Homo sapiens: one gene and its partners. The protein of the gene in region 4 interacts with the protein of the main gene of each other region in a biochemical or structural test. Each region holds a gene or a part of one and is shown on either strand. Other genes may lie near its edges.

Evidence for each region. Proteins that work in one complex are often made in the same cells at the same time.
Region 1: the proteins of POU2F1 (region 4) and CREB1 form a complex in vitro, tested with the Homo sapiens proteins (one study listed by BioGRID).
Region 2: the proteins of POU2F1 (region 4) and PBX1 form a complex in vitro, tested with the Homo sapiens proteins (one study listed by BioGRID).
Region 3: of the proteins of POU2F1 (region 4) and PRKACA, one has a biochemical effect on the other in vitro, tested with the Homo sapiens proteins (one study listed by BioGRID).

Annotation. Positions count from the first base shown.
Region 1 is NC_000002.12:207,602,962-207,606,488, reverse strand, and holds the end of CREB1 (cyclic AMP-responsive element-binding protein 1), read right to left. Parts: 3' UTR 501-3,527; downstream 1-500.
Region 2 is NC_000001.11:164,849,184-164,852,331, forward strand, and holds the end of PBX1 (pre-B-cell leukemia transcription factor 1), read left to right. Parts: 3' UTR 1-156; coding exon of another isoform or gene 157-219; 3' UTR 220-2,648; downstream 2,649-3,148. UniProt on the Homo sapiens protein: Transcription factor which binds the DNA sequence 5'-TGATTGAT-3' as part of a heterodimer with HOX proteins such as HOXA1, HOXA5, HOXB7 and HOXB8. Binds to the DNA sequence 5'-TGATTGAC-3' in complex with a nuclear factor which is not a class I HOX protein.
Region 3 is NC_000019.10:14,104,263-14,107,762, reverse strand, and holds part of PRKACA (cAMP-dependent protein kinase catalytic subunit alpha), read left to right. Parts: coding exon of another isoform or gene 1-52; intron 53-353; coding exon 354-415; intron 416-874; coding exon 875-1,003; intron 1,004-3,500.
Region 4 is NC_000001.11:167,374,386-167,377,885, forward strand, and holds part of POU2F1 (POU domain, class 2, transcription factor 1), read left to right. Parts: intron 1-1,643; coding exon 1,644-1,770; intron 1,771-3,500. UniProt on the Homo sapiens protein: Transcription factor that binds to the octamer motif (5'-ATTTGCAT-3') and activates the promoters of the genes for some small nuclear RNAs (snRNA) and of genes such as those for histone H2B and immunoglobulins.

The DNA.
Region 1 (3,527 bases), on a different chromosome or scaffold from region 4:
TTTTTTGAGACGGGAGCCTTGCTCTGTCGCCCAGGCTGGAGTGCAATGGCGCAATCTCGGCTCACTGCAACCTCCGCCTCCTGGGTTCAAGTGATTCTCCTGCCTCAGCCTCCCGAGTAGCTGGGATTACAGGCGCCTGCCACCATGCCTGGCTAATTTTTGTATTTTTTAGTAGAGATGAGGTTTCACCATGTTGGTCAGGCTGGTCTCGAACTCCTGACCTCAGGTGATCTGCCCTCCTCTGCCTCGGCCTCCCAAAGTGATGGGATTACAGGCGTGAGCCACCCGCACCCCGGCCCAACTTGAAGATTTAATTGTTAGCTTTCTGCTCTAAAATCATGTTACACCTTTCCTTCTACAACCAGAGGGGTTAAAAATTTAGTAACACTAGAAAAGATGGCATATTGAAAACTTGTTTCTTTGCTAAGAACAGTTATTTCTGAGGATATTAGAAAGAAAACAGTATTAACAGAGATGAGAAAAGGAAAGCCTTATGAAAGTCTGTGCCACTTCTAATTTTAATTCCAGAAAAAAATGCCTAGACTGTAAAGTTTGACATAAAAATAGTAATCAACATAAGTTAATAAAAATTGCTTAGCAGATACCTAATAATCATTAGGAAACAATATCCAAATATGAAGAAAACCATAATTCAGAAATAACTTTTACTTCTCAGTATCCTGGAGATACAACTTGTGTAGACCTAGTTACCAACCTCTGTATATCTGTAACAGTAAAAAATTTCAAACAGCCAAATGTCCCCAGAAGAGGACTGGTTAAACTGTATCTGTACAATGGCAGCAGTTTATAAACCACTGTTTGTACCTACCTTTTGTGTAAAAAAAGGGAGAGGGAGGAGGAGAGAACATACATTATATTTGTGTATATATGCACAGACTGTCACAAAAAACATAACACAAAAAACTTCTTACAGTTTGCCCTTTTCCATGTTTCTTTTTTTTAGAAGTGTACATATTACATAAAGTAAGTTTGAAAACAATGAGGACATTATAAAGCAAAAACTTATAGGCGAAAATATTATAAGGGCCTAGTACCCAGAATATATAAGGAACTCAGAACCCAACAACAAAATTTCAATGAACAAAGGACCTCAACAGACATTTCTTCAAAGAAGATACGCAGATGGCCAAAGACAACAAAAGATGCTCCACATCATTAGTAATCAGGGAAATGCAAATCAAAACCACAATGAGAGACCACACCCATGAGGATGGCTATAATTTTTAAAATGGCAAAATAAGTGTTGGTGAAGGTGTGGAGAAATTGGAACCCTCATACATCAATGGTGGAAGGTAAAACGGTACAGCTGCTGAGGGAAAGTTTGACAGTTCCTCAAAAAGTTAAATGTGCGATTTCAACATGACCCAGCAACTCCACTCCCAGGCATATACCCCAAATAATTGAAAACACGGACTCAAATACTTGTACACGAACATTCATAACAGCACTATGAACATTAGCCAAACAGTAGAAACAACTCAACTGGATGAATCGATAAACTTGTGGTATATATCTACAATGGCATACTTACTATAAAAAGTATACTTAGCTATAAAAAGGAATGAAGTAGTGATAACATGTTACAATGGATCAACCTCAACAACACATTAAAGCTAGACGAAAGAAGTAATACACAGTGTATGAGTCTCACATGAAATACCCGGATGTAAATCCAAAGAAACAGGAAGCAGATTGGTGGTTGCCAGGGACAAGGGCGGTGGGAGGAGAAAATGGAGAGTAACGGGACTTTACTTTTGGAGTGATGAGAATGTTTTGGAGCTAGATAGAAGTGGTGGTTGTACACCATTGTGGATGTACTACCACTTAATTGTTCACTTAAAAAGTTAATTTATGTGAATTGCATCTTAATTAAAAACAAGGATAACATTCCAACTCCTGGACATTATCCTTCCTTTCCATTTGATGTCAGGCCCGTGTTAGAATTCTCATCCGGTTTGGTCACTGCACTTAAGAAAGATGTGGAGAAATTAGGACGCACAGTTAAGAAGAAGGATAACACTGATTAAGGTAGTGCTTTTCTAGGTTTCCCCTAAACAATTTAACAGATGGATAGTGGCACCACTTACGAGATGGAAAAACCAGCGGAAGGAAGATTTGGGGGAGAAGTTAAGTTTGTCTTGGGCCTGTGTTTTGCAACCTGAGTGTAAAAGACATATGTTAAGTCTTCAGTGGCGAAACACTAAAACTAGAAATGGATCAGAATTTTATCTTTGGATGTGACTTCTCAAGGATGGTCTTGTCACTTCAGTGCCTGGTCAAATGACAAGATGGGCAATCTTTTCCTGAAGGTCCAAGCACCTGAACGTGGCAGGGTGACCCGATTCCGATTTGCTTAGAACAATCCTAGTTCATGCCTATTGTCCCTCATGTAATTAATATCACTCTCAAAATGTCTCATTTTGTGCAATAAATTCTGTAATCGTTGTTGCAGAAAATAAATGAAATTCATTAAGCCTTCCAATACAATGGCAGGTATAGCAGGCTTGAACACATCTTGGCAGTGAAGAAACATACAAATAATGCAGCTGCTTATTTTCAGATGTCTCGTCTCAGAACTTATTTCAGAAGTTAATAGTATAGGAGATAACTTTTTTATTCTTACAGCTTAAGCAAAGATTAACCATATCCCCTCCCCTTTCCTTCCAATTTATATGATCACAGAGTTTTAGAATTGCAAGGGGACCTGAGAAGGTATATAGTCTTATTGTCCTTTCAGTGAACACGTGTTTTATGACATCAGACACAGCTGGTCGTATGTCTCCATTAGTCATCTTGACAGTAACATCTCCAAATCCACAAATAGGCACTGTTCAATCTTATTGAAAAACAGGTTTTGTCCTGAAAATTAGGGATCCAGTAACTGAAGACATGTTGTTGTCTGAATTAGTTTTGCTGCCTTCCAACACAAGCTTGTAATATATTGTAACTTTAAGTCCAATAAAACATGGCTTCACACTACTAGCAAAAAAAACCCAACAAAATATAGAGATCCCATCCCCAAAAAAGAGACTTACAGAGTTTTTAAAAGCATGTTTATGTGACTGCACATAAATGTTTGTGTAAAAAGAGCATTATGACAGTTGATACCACAAAGATTACAGTAAGAAAAAGCACTTTATGACAATATTTCACAAATTCACAAGGATCACTTTAATATACAAAGCAACTGCTACTATTCTGAACACAAAGCAGCTATTATGTACATAGTGTTAATAAAATGCATTGTAACTCAGTACATTTTTTTCTTTACACATAAAGCACAAAAAGATTTAGATAAAAAAATTAAAACAGGGATGTTTCTAGAATGTAGGGAATTTTATTAGAAATGTATTTCCCTCATTATAGTTATTTATTTAGTATTCAACTCCAATAGAAACATCAGAGTTAAAAATCAATACCCTGTTTTGTGCTGACAGTTGTGGGGGAAGTCTTCTTTACCCCAACCCTCAAAAACCAAAAAGCCAAACACCTTTCTAGGAACTTCC
Region 2 (3,148 bases), 2.5 Mb from region 4:
GTGGCCTGAATAATTGCCATGTTAAGTTAATGCAAAAGATCAGAACAGGGCTACATTTGCACAGGCAGTTTCTCTCCGGGCCGTAGTTTTCACTGATGATCACCTTTCACAGCATTTTCCCCAACCAGCATTTCACTTAGTCTTCTCTATACCCAGCACCTCCCCCGGCACCCCCGGCAAGCCCACTATCACTTCCGACTTCCAACGTGGCATCCGTGAGATCTGTCCACATTAGGCGAAGCAGGAGAACACTGAGAGCAGCAGGATGGGTTTGGAAAGAGCATGCCTCTGGAAACACAGCTTCCTGGGAATTCACATGAGGCCAGTCCTACAGAGAGCAAGATGCACCCCAGGATTTCTTCATTTTCTAATAGATGTGGGAGTGCTCCATTTTCCCCGACAGCGAATTTCCCCTGAGAAACGATACTAGACCCTGGGTTTGCCCACCTTGTAACTCTTCCTTATCTCCTCCTTTTCATCCCTAATCCATCCTCCCTCTGGCATGGAATTGACGCCCGTGCAGTACATTTGCCAAGTGGCACCTTCTTTCAATTTATGTTTTATTTTGCTATGGTGGTGATTCTTTATTTGCTGGTTGTCTTTTCTCACACATCTTTCTCTCTGTCTCTCTCTTTCCTGCTCTTTGTTTTTCTGCCCAGAAAAACCTGACTTCGATACCAAAAAAGATGAAACTACAGAAACTCAAATTTAAAAAAAACTTTAAAAGAAACAAAAAAATACTCAACGATTCTTTCAGCTTTATTAACATTTTCCATTGTTTCTTGCGACTTGTGTCTCGTTCTTTGTAGTATTGATGATGAACATTTGATAATGAATGTTCTTGTATATTCAGATAAAGAAAAAAAAAACCAAAAAAGCGGTCTGAATTTAATAGTGTTTATAATAAAAATTTTAAAAATGACCCTCATAGCACGCAAAACAGGATGGGGAATTTCCCCTCTTCTTTCTGTGACAATGCGCATCATTCCTGCATTAGTTTTTAACACCAGACTACCTACATTCATCATTTCCCTCATTTTTCTTTTATTTTCTTGCATTTGTGAATTAGTTCAAGAATGCTAGAAAAGTGTCGAGTTGTGCACATCCATTTCTTGTTTCACAATGTTTAAAAGTGACAGTAATTCATTTTGTAAACTAAAAAAAAAAAAAAAAAGGTTGGAATAGTGAGCATAATAGGTACAACCTAACACATTATTATGTTTATTAACTTTGAGACCCAGAAATAAATTCTTTTCTTTTCTTGATTCTTGCTCTTAAAAATACAAAAAAAAAAATGTTTTGTTTTGTGTTATTTTTGGTTTGTTTATTGGGGGGCTTTTTTTAATTGTCAGGATTATGATCTTGCTGTTTTTCTTCAATATGTATACAAGGTGATGTGAAAAGATGACTTGGGCAGAGGAGTAAGAACAAGTAGGCTTGTTCTTCTACTTTGCTTCAGAATTCAGTTAATGCCAAAAGCGAAGATCAAGCCCATGTTGATGTCTCGTTGCTCACCTGCATTTCCAGAGAGTGTGACACTCATGCAGTCCCTGAGAAAAATAAAATCAGGGACATACTTCTCCTTTTAGCCTTTTAAAAATTCAAAAACGTTTAGTCCAAGGGAACTTTTTATGCTATCAGGAAAGGTTTTTGCTGTTTTTGATTCTGATTATCACAGCCAAGTACTTTGTTTTATTTCTCCCTAATTAATAACTACATTCCATGAGGCCTCTTCCAACCAAAGAGGCCTTTTCTTCCAGGAGAGTCCCGCAGGAGATGCTGGTATGATGGGCACCATTGGTTAAGTAAACTACATGCAGGAAGAAGTCCTTGGGGCCAGTCTGCCAGCTGAGTCCTGGTTTTGGATGAAGAGTTAATGAGATATTGGGCCAGGCTCAATGCTGTAGTTTTAATGCTAAGAGGTTACGTTTACTTCACAGAGTACACCTCTTAGTAACCTCTGACTTAGGCAGCTGCTTAAAGCAAATTGCAAAACTGGCTTGATTTGGAATGTTTTTATTAGAGGAAAAAAGAAAGCCATATTATCTGGAAAAAAATTCATTTTAAATACCATCATTCAACAAATTATGTTCAGAAAGTGGTCAGAACTTAAGCAAGAAAAGTAAAGAAAGAATGCAGAATTGTGGAGCAATGCTTTAGGAAATATTTCTACCTGAACACTTGTACTCTTGAAGTCACAACAAAATAATGATGAGCTTTTCACATCACCTTTATGGTTTCAATCCCTAGCTCAAAGCTTCCTGGAATCTTTTATTTTTTGTAAACTTTTTTTTCTTTTGTTAAAATAAATAAAACATTCAATGTTTTTCTCCTTTTCTCTCTTATTACTTCTTTCCTTTGGCATTTTCAATTTGAAATGCTTTCCTTTGGTTGTTGGTTTTATTCTCCCCCTACCCCTCCCCTTTTCTTATTATTCAGAATATAAACCTGCAAAGCTCTGCTCTGTTTTGGTTTTGAAAGTTTAAGCTTTTCTGCTTCTGTGAGAGCACAGGCTTCTGTCCCTTTTGATTCCAACTGAACTTTTGTGTTCTCTAATGATACTAACACGGTGTAGGTTTTACAGTCTCCTAATTTGTACTGGTAATGCATATTCCAAATAAATAGTTTCTTTTGTTGCAAAAAAAAATACTTGTATTTTGTGCACATTTCTTTTCTTACATGCTGGCAACTTCTCTTTCCCCAAACTAGGCCTGCATTAGTGTAGATTATGGTTTAAACTGTTGCCCTAATCACTGAAAAGTCTACATACTATGGTGGTGGGGCAGAGACCTTATGGACCACCTTCTTCACTCAGGAAATAAGAAGGAAGGAAGGAAGGATCATTTGTGGGTAAACAATAGCTGTATTACAGAGGGACAGAGCACCCCATCTTGTCTGCTTGCTACTGGCAGCCATCCACCAAGCACCAGTTCAGAGAAATGCCAGGAGTATTTTCCATAATAAATTCTAAGTTCCTAAGTCATGGCTGTTTGCCCAGTGATTCTCCTTTTCTTCTCTTTGTCTGCTGTGATCTGGTCATAAGAAAAATTGTGGTTCCCAAGAGATATTTCAGGGGAAGGAATCTAGGTTACAAATAATACCCAGTTGTAGGCTCTCAGGAGTGTGATAGATGTTACTCCCAACAGAT
Region 3 (3,500 bases), on a different chromosome or scaffold from region 4:
TCCCAAGGCTATAAATACCTCGGCTGGCGTCGGCCCTGGCCATGGAATGTCGGTCAGAACTGGGGCGAGTGGGGGTGGGCTGGTCTGCCTGGGCACCTCCCTCCGTTCCCCTGCGAGTGACCCCTGAGACTCTCTGTACCCCACTTTGGATGGAGTGGCAGCTGGATCCCACCTCTCTGTAGCAAGGGAGGCCCAGGCCACGGCCCAGCCAAGGCCCCAGAGGCACCAGAAAAAGGTCAGGCTCTGGGTTGGAACTGCACCCCACTTTCCACCAAGTATCTCCCCAGAAATCACCTGAACCCACCCCGGTGAGACGGGCGTCTCTGTATAACTCTCCCCTCTCTCCCTTTCAGTGAAAGAATTCTTAGCCAAAGCCAAAGAAGATTTTCTTAAAAAATGGGAAAGTCCCGCTCAGGTAAGGCTGCCGGGTGCAGAGCCCAGGGAGGGGTGAGCTGCTAACCCCCAGCCCCTGGCTGTGTCCCAGCAACACAGCTAGAATTTCAGAAACCCCATAGAAGGCTTCAGACCCTCCCCATTTGCTCCCTAGGTGCCCATGGGGGCTCCTGTGTGGAGACACCTGACTGCCCAATGCCAGGCACCCCCATCCCACCACCCCTCCCAACGGCCCGCCCCTGCCCCCAGCACAGCTGCCAGCAGCTTCCAGGCCCCAGGCCAGGGCCGGATCTGGCCCCTGCCACCCGCCTTAAGGAATGTGCCCTCTGCCATCTTGATTTTCCGCCCCCTGTCCTCACCCCGCTGACCCCACGTGCTCCCCGGGGCCCCCTCTGCCGGTGGCAGAGGGGATGCCCCAGACCTTAGCCAAGCAGGCCGCGGGGAGGGCGTGCCCTGAGCCTACCGACCCCTCTGCCCACAGAACACAGCCCACTTGGATCAGTTTGAACGAATCAAGACCCTCGGCACGGGCTCCTTCGGGCGGGTGATGCTGGTGAAACACAAGGAGACCGGGAACCACTATGCCATGAAGATCCTCGACAAACAGAAGGTGAGGTGGCCTGTCCTCGCTCAGGGCCTGCCTGTCAGGCCTTTGCCTGGACTGTGCCCACTCCTTAGAGTGCCCTATCCACCCGTTCACTCACTTGCTTTTTTTTGATTCAGAGTCTCGCTCTGTCGCTCAGGCTGGAGTACAGTGGCGTGATCTCGGCTCACTGCAACCTCCACCTCCCTAGTTCAAGCGATTCTCCTGCCTCAGCCTCCCGAGTAGCTGGGATTACAGGCGCCTGCCACCACACCCAGCTAATTTTTGTATTTTTAGTAGAGATGGGTTTTCGCCATGTTGGCCAGGATGGTTTCGAATTCCTGACCTCAGGTGATACACCTGCCTCAGCCTCCCAAAGTGCTGGGATTACAGGCGTGAGCCACCGCGCCTGGCCGCTTGGTTTTTTTGTGGGGGACAGGATCCTGCTCTGTTGCCCAAGCAGGAAAGTGCAGTGACGTGATCATAGCTCACTGTAGCCTCAAACTCCTGAGCTCAAGAGATCCTCCTGAGTAGCTGGGACTACAAGCGCACACTACCATGCCTGGCTAATTTTTTTTTGTTGTTTGTTTGTTTTTTGTTTTAGACAGGGGGTCTTGCTGTGTTGCCCAGGCTGGTCTTGAACTCCTGGCCTCAAGTGATCTCCTACTTCAGCCTCCCAAAGCACAGGGATTACAGGCATGAGCCACCATGCCAGGCTCACCCACTATTCCCCGAGCCCCCATAATGTGCCAGCCCCAGGGGTCAGAAGGGCCCTGTGCCGCCTTCCCAAAGCTCCCTCTCCAGGCCGGCCATGGATTCAAAGCCAGGCACTGTGACACAGGGTCAGACACCAGCCCAACAGGAGGAGAACAAGAGCACTCTTGGGGGAAGTGGTGTTTATGTGCACTTTCTTCCCGTAAATATTTTTGTGATCGGACTTTATACCAGGCACTGCTATAAAGCAGCAATGTAACTAGCAGAAATGTAACCTGAGCCACAGAAGCAATTTTAAATTTTCTGTTTGCTCCATCATAAACAGTAAAAACAGCCAAGCACGGTGGCGCACGCCTGTAGTCCCAGCTACTAGACAGGCTGAGGTGGGAGGATCACTTGAACCCAGGAGTTCAACTCCAGCCTCGACAACACAGCCAGACCCCATCTCTAAAAAAACACCCAAAGTTTGTAATTAAAAGAGAAAATGAAAGAAACAGGTGTCATTCATGAAATTCATTTTAATGACATGTTTGGGGCTTTTTTTTATGTTTTTTTTTTTTTGAGACAGAGTCTCACTCTTGTCGCCCAGGCTGGACTGCAGTGGCGTGATCTCAGCTCACTGCAACCTCCACCTCCCAGGTTCAAGTGATTCTCCTGCCTCAGCTTCCCAAGTAGCTGGGATTATGGGTGCCACCACCACGCCCAGCTAACTTTTGTATTTTTAGTAGACTTGGGGTTTCACCATGTTGGTCAGGTTGGTCTCGAACTCCTGACCTCAGGTAATCCGCCCGCCTCAGCCTTCCAAAGTGCTGGGATTACAGATGTGAGCCACCACACCTGGCCTAATGATATGTTTTAATTAAGCCAGTATATCTACAGTATTACCCTTTCCATATATTATCAATGTGAAAATATCATTAATGAAACATTTTACATTCCTTTTGTTTTTTTCCCAGTCCTCCATGACTTCGGAAATATTTCCTTTTTTTCTGTACTGAAGTATCTTTAAAATCCAGTGTCTATTGTATGCTTACAACAGTTCTCAACTCTGATGGTAAATTTTTCCTGGAAAGATAAGAAAAAGCAGGGAAGTTGAAAAAGCAGATTCACATGCCCAAGTTGTTCCAACCATGCCTGAAAGTCACCAGTACCTGCATCAAGAGTTTAATTTTTGTTTTGTTTTGTTTTGTTTTGTTTTTGAGATGGAGTTTCGCTCTTGTTGCCCAGGCTGGAGTGCAATGGCATGATCTCAGCTCACTACAACCTCTGCCTCCGGGTTTCAAGCGATTCTTGTGCTCCAGCCTCCTGAGTAGCTGGAATTACAGGCGCCGGCTACCACGCCCAGCTAATTTTTTAATTTTTTTTTTTTTTTTTTTTGAGATGGAGTCTCGCTCTGTCGCTCAGGCTGGAGTGCAGTGGCACGATCTTGGCTCACTGCAACCTCTGCCTCCCGGGTTCACGCCATTCTTCTGCCTCAGCCTCCTGAGTAGCTGGGACTACAGGCGCCCACCACCACGCCTGGCTAATTTTTTGTATTTTTAGTAGAGATGGGGTTTCACCGTGTTAGCCAGGATGGTCTCCATCTCCTGACCTTGTAATCCACCGGCCTCGGCCTCCCAAAGTGCTGGGATTACAGGCGTGAGCCACCACACCTGGCCAGTTTTTAAATATTTTTAGTAGAGACAGGGTTTCACCATTTTGGCCTGGCTGGTTGTTGTTTTTTTTTTTTTTTTTTTGAGACGGAGTCTCGCTCTGCCACCCAGGCTGGACTGCAGTGGTGTGATCTCAGCTCACTGCCAGCTCCACCTCC
Region 4 (3,500 bases):
TGTGGGGCCTTAACTGCCTGAGGAGCTCTAGATCAGTGAGGTAAGCGGTACCCTTCCTTACCACTGAATTAGAAATAATGTTTGTTTGCTTATTGTAGTTGATATTGTAAACATATAGCTGATTATTTGAATAACTGACTTTATATTAAGTGACAATTCTTGAATAATTAGCTGGCATATTTTTGAAGCAGGGGATTACTGTATTTATTTTAATTAGCTAATTACAGCAGACATGGATTTTTTTTCATGTGCTCTGCGGTGAATGTTGCCACCCATGTGTGAGACAGTGAGTCATCTCTGCTATGGAGTGATTAACATTATTGCATTAGAATGTTGTTTGGTTTCAATTTTCACATTTTAGGGCAAAGTATCTAGAGATAATAAAAATTTATTTAAGAAGCGCCAGGCGCGGTGGCTCACGCCTGTAATCCCAGCACTTTGGGAGGCCGAGGCGGGCGGATCACTAGGTCAGGAGTTCGAGACCATACTGGCTAACACGGTGAAACCCCATCTCTACTAAAAATACAAAAAATTAGCCAGGTGTGGTGGCAGGTGCCTGTAATCCCAGCTACGCGGGAGGTTGAGGCAGGAGAATAGCGTGAACCCAGGAGGTGGAGCTTGCAGTGAGCCGAGATCGCGCCACTAAAAAAAAAAAAAATTAAGAAGCATACACAATAGTACCAAGGAGGAAAATAAATAAAATCTTTAATCTCAAGAAGAGGAAAAAGGTATAAGTAGATATATCAGTAAAATATATGAAGAGTTATTATGAGTCTAATTGTTAGACAGCTGTCTTTATCCGTCTCAGAAAAGACTCAGAAATGGACTTAACTTGTAGCAAGAGTTTGACTAACCATTTAAAAAGAACTAATTAACTGTAAGAGTAGAGAATAAATATCAGACTAGTCTTTATACAATCTTTATCAAGATAATGTTTTGATTTTGGCCACTTTCTCATCACCAAATAAATGTTTTTAGTGCCTAAGCTGTGAGACCCTATATTAACATTAGTCTAAATAAGATAACGTTCATGAAAACACTTTGAAAATTATAAAACAGTAGGCCAATGTAAGGTGCTATTGTTGTTAGGGATTAAATTTTTATATGGATAGCTATTTTTGGTTTTAAAAAATTGAATACTTTAGAACATGTGGAAAAGGGCAAAAAAATTGAATACTGATTTTTCAGTTGAGTTAGATAAGCTGTTGTCAAATGTCATAAGTCATTATAGGCCCTTTATTGATGGAAATTCAGACATAACACGATCAATTTTTATTTAAGAGAAAGATCAATCAAATATTTAAAAACTGTTTTCTCACTTGATTTTTAAAACCCATATTGGTCTTTACATGATAAAAAACAGAAGTATATTTGTTCTGAGGGAATTTTAAAGAAACATTGAAAATTAGGCTTATCATAACAATATATGTCAGTCCACAAAAATAGTCAGTTGCAGAGGCTCCAGGTTGCTTCACGTGCTTTGTCAAGCACACACAGAGCATACCCTGTTTGGAATATGAAAGCATGCGAAGTATTTACTCTTCTTTATTTGGATGTGACAGAAGTCATCAGCTGGAAGCCTTATAATTAAGCGAACTTTTATTTCAGAATCTCCAATCCATGTTTTAATTCCAATTTTTCAGGATCTTCAACAACTGCAACAGCTTCAACAGCAGAATCTCAACCTGCAACAGTTTGTGTTGGTGCATCCAACCACCAATTTGCAGCCAGCGCAGTTTATCATCTCACAGACGCCCCAGGGCCAGCAGGGTGAGCTCCTCCTTAGAGCTTATTAGTGGTATACCAAGGCTGTTCGCTGAATGTTACACATGCATGAACTACTATCATTTTGGCCCTGAAACTATTAGACCAATGTTTTTATTAAATTTTATTTGATTATAAACTTTCGTTTAAAAAAAGTTTTGTTTTGTTTTTTGTCATAAATACCACATTATTGAAGGTTGCCCTGAACTGCCATTCATCTGCTTAATCACTAAGGAAGAACCAAGAGTTTGGCCAAAAGTCTAAGTGAAATTATTCAACATGCCAAACATAAATTGGATAAGTTGCTGCTAGTGTTTTGATTGTTTTTCATGGAAGTGTATTCAAAGAATATAGACTGAGTGTTGAAAGTATGTGCTTCTAACCATTGTTTTTTTAATTTAAGGAGGGAAGACTGCTATAATAGAAACTACAAATTTCGTGAGTTATAAAAAACATCTTTGAGTCATTTGAGTGGTAAATGTTATATAATTAATATATCAAACAACCACTCGTCTGTAAGGTCAGTTAATGTAATCAGGGTGAAGAATGTCAGAGTATCAAGGCTTCAACCCAAGGAACATTAGTGCATCACTAATGATTCTTTATTATTTCTGAGTGGGTTTTTTTGCCTTTTTTCTTCTTGATCATTCATTCCAAAATCTTTTGTCATGAAATAATTATTCTAGCATATATTCAAGATTCAGAGATAAGTAATTCAGTATTTACTTGCAGAGGGCTCACAATTTAGTGGCAGGGAAACAGACCTAAATTATGTTAGATTTGATATGCACACAATGCTATGGGAACCAAGCAAAGAGACCCCTGTAACTTTGTGCTCAGATAAGTCTTCACAGTGAATTTGGGAAAATACATTCATAGGCTTACAAAAGAGAGAATGTCAGTCTTGGAAAATGAACAGCATTTGCAAACCTTAGAAACATGGAAGAAAAATCAATAAGCTGTGTTTGAGAACTATAAGTAGTGCCTTACAACTGCAGAATAAGTTTGCATATGCAGGTAATAGTGAAATTTGAACCCAGAAAGATTAGCAGAGACCAGATCATTAAAGAACCTTAGATTAAGTTTCCAGGAGTTTGACCTTAAATCCTATAGCTTAGTGCTTCCTAAGATTTGATTTATTTAAGAGTCATTAATGGCCAGGCGTGGTGGCTGACGCCTGTAATCCCAGCACTTTGTGAGGCCGAGGCAGGCAGATCACGAGGTCAGGAGATCGAGACCATCCTAGCTAACACAGTGAAACCCCATCTCTACTAAAAATACAAAAAAAATAGCCAGGCGTGGTGGCAGGCGCCTGTAGTCCCAGCTACTCAGGAGGCTGAGGCAGGAGAATGGTGTGAACTGGGAAGGCAGAGCTTGCAGTGAGCCAAGATTGAACCACTGCACTCCAGCCTGGGTGACAGAGTGAGACTCCGTCTAAAAAATAAAAAAATTAAAAAATCACTTGAGGAATTAGAAAAGTTTCCTGAGCCCTAACCCCAACCTCCCAATTACTTTTTTTCTTATTTTTAAACTATTAGGTTCAGGGTTACACTCAGGTTTGTTATGTAGATAAACTACATGTCATAGGGATTTGATGTACAGATAATTTCATCACCCAGGTAATAGGCATAATACCTGATAGGTAGTTTTTTCGATTCTCATCCTCCTCCCACCCTCTACCCTCAAGTAGGCCCTGGTGGCTGTTGTTCCCTTCTTTGTGTACATATGTACTGAAA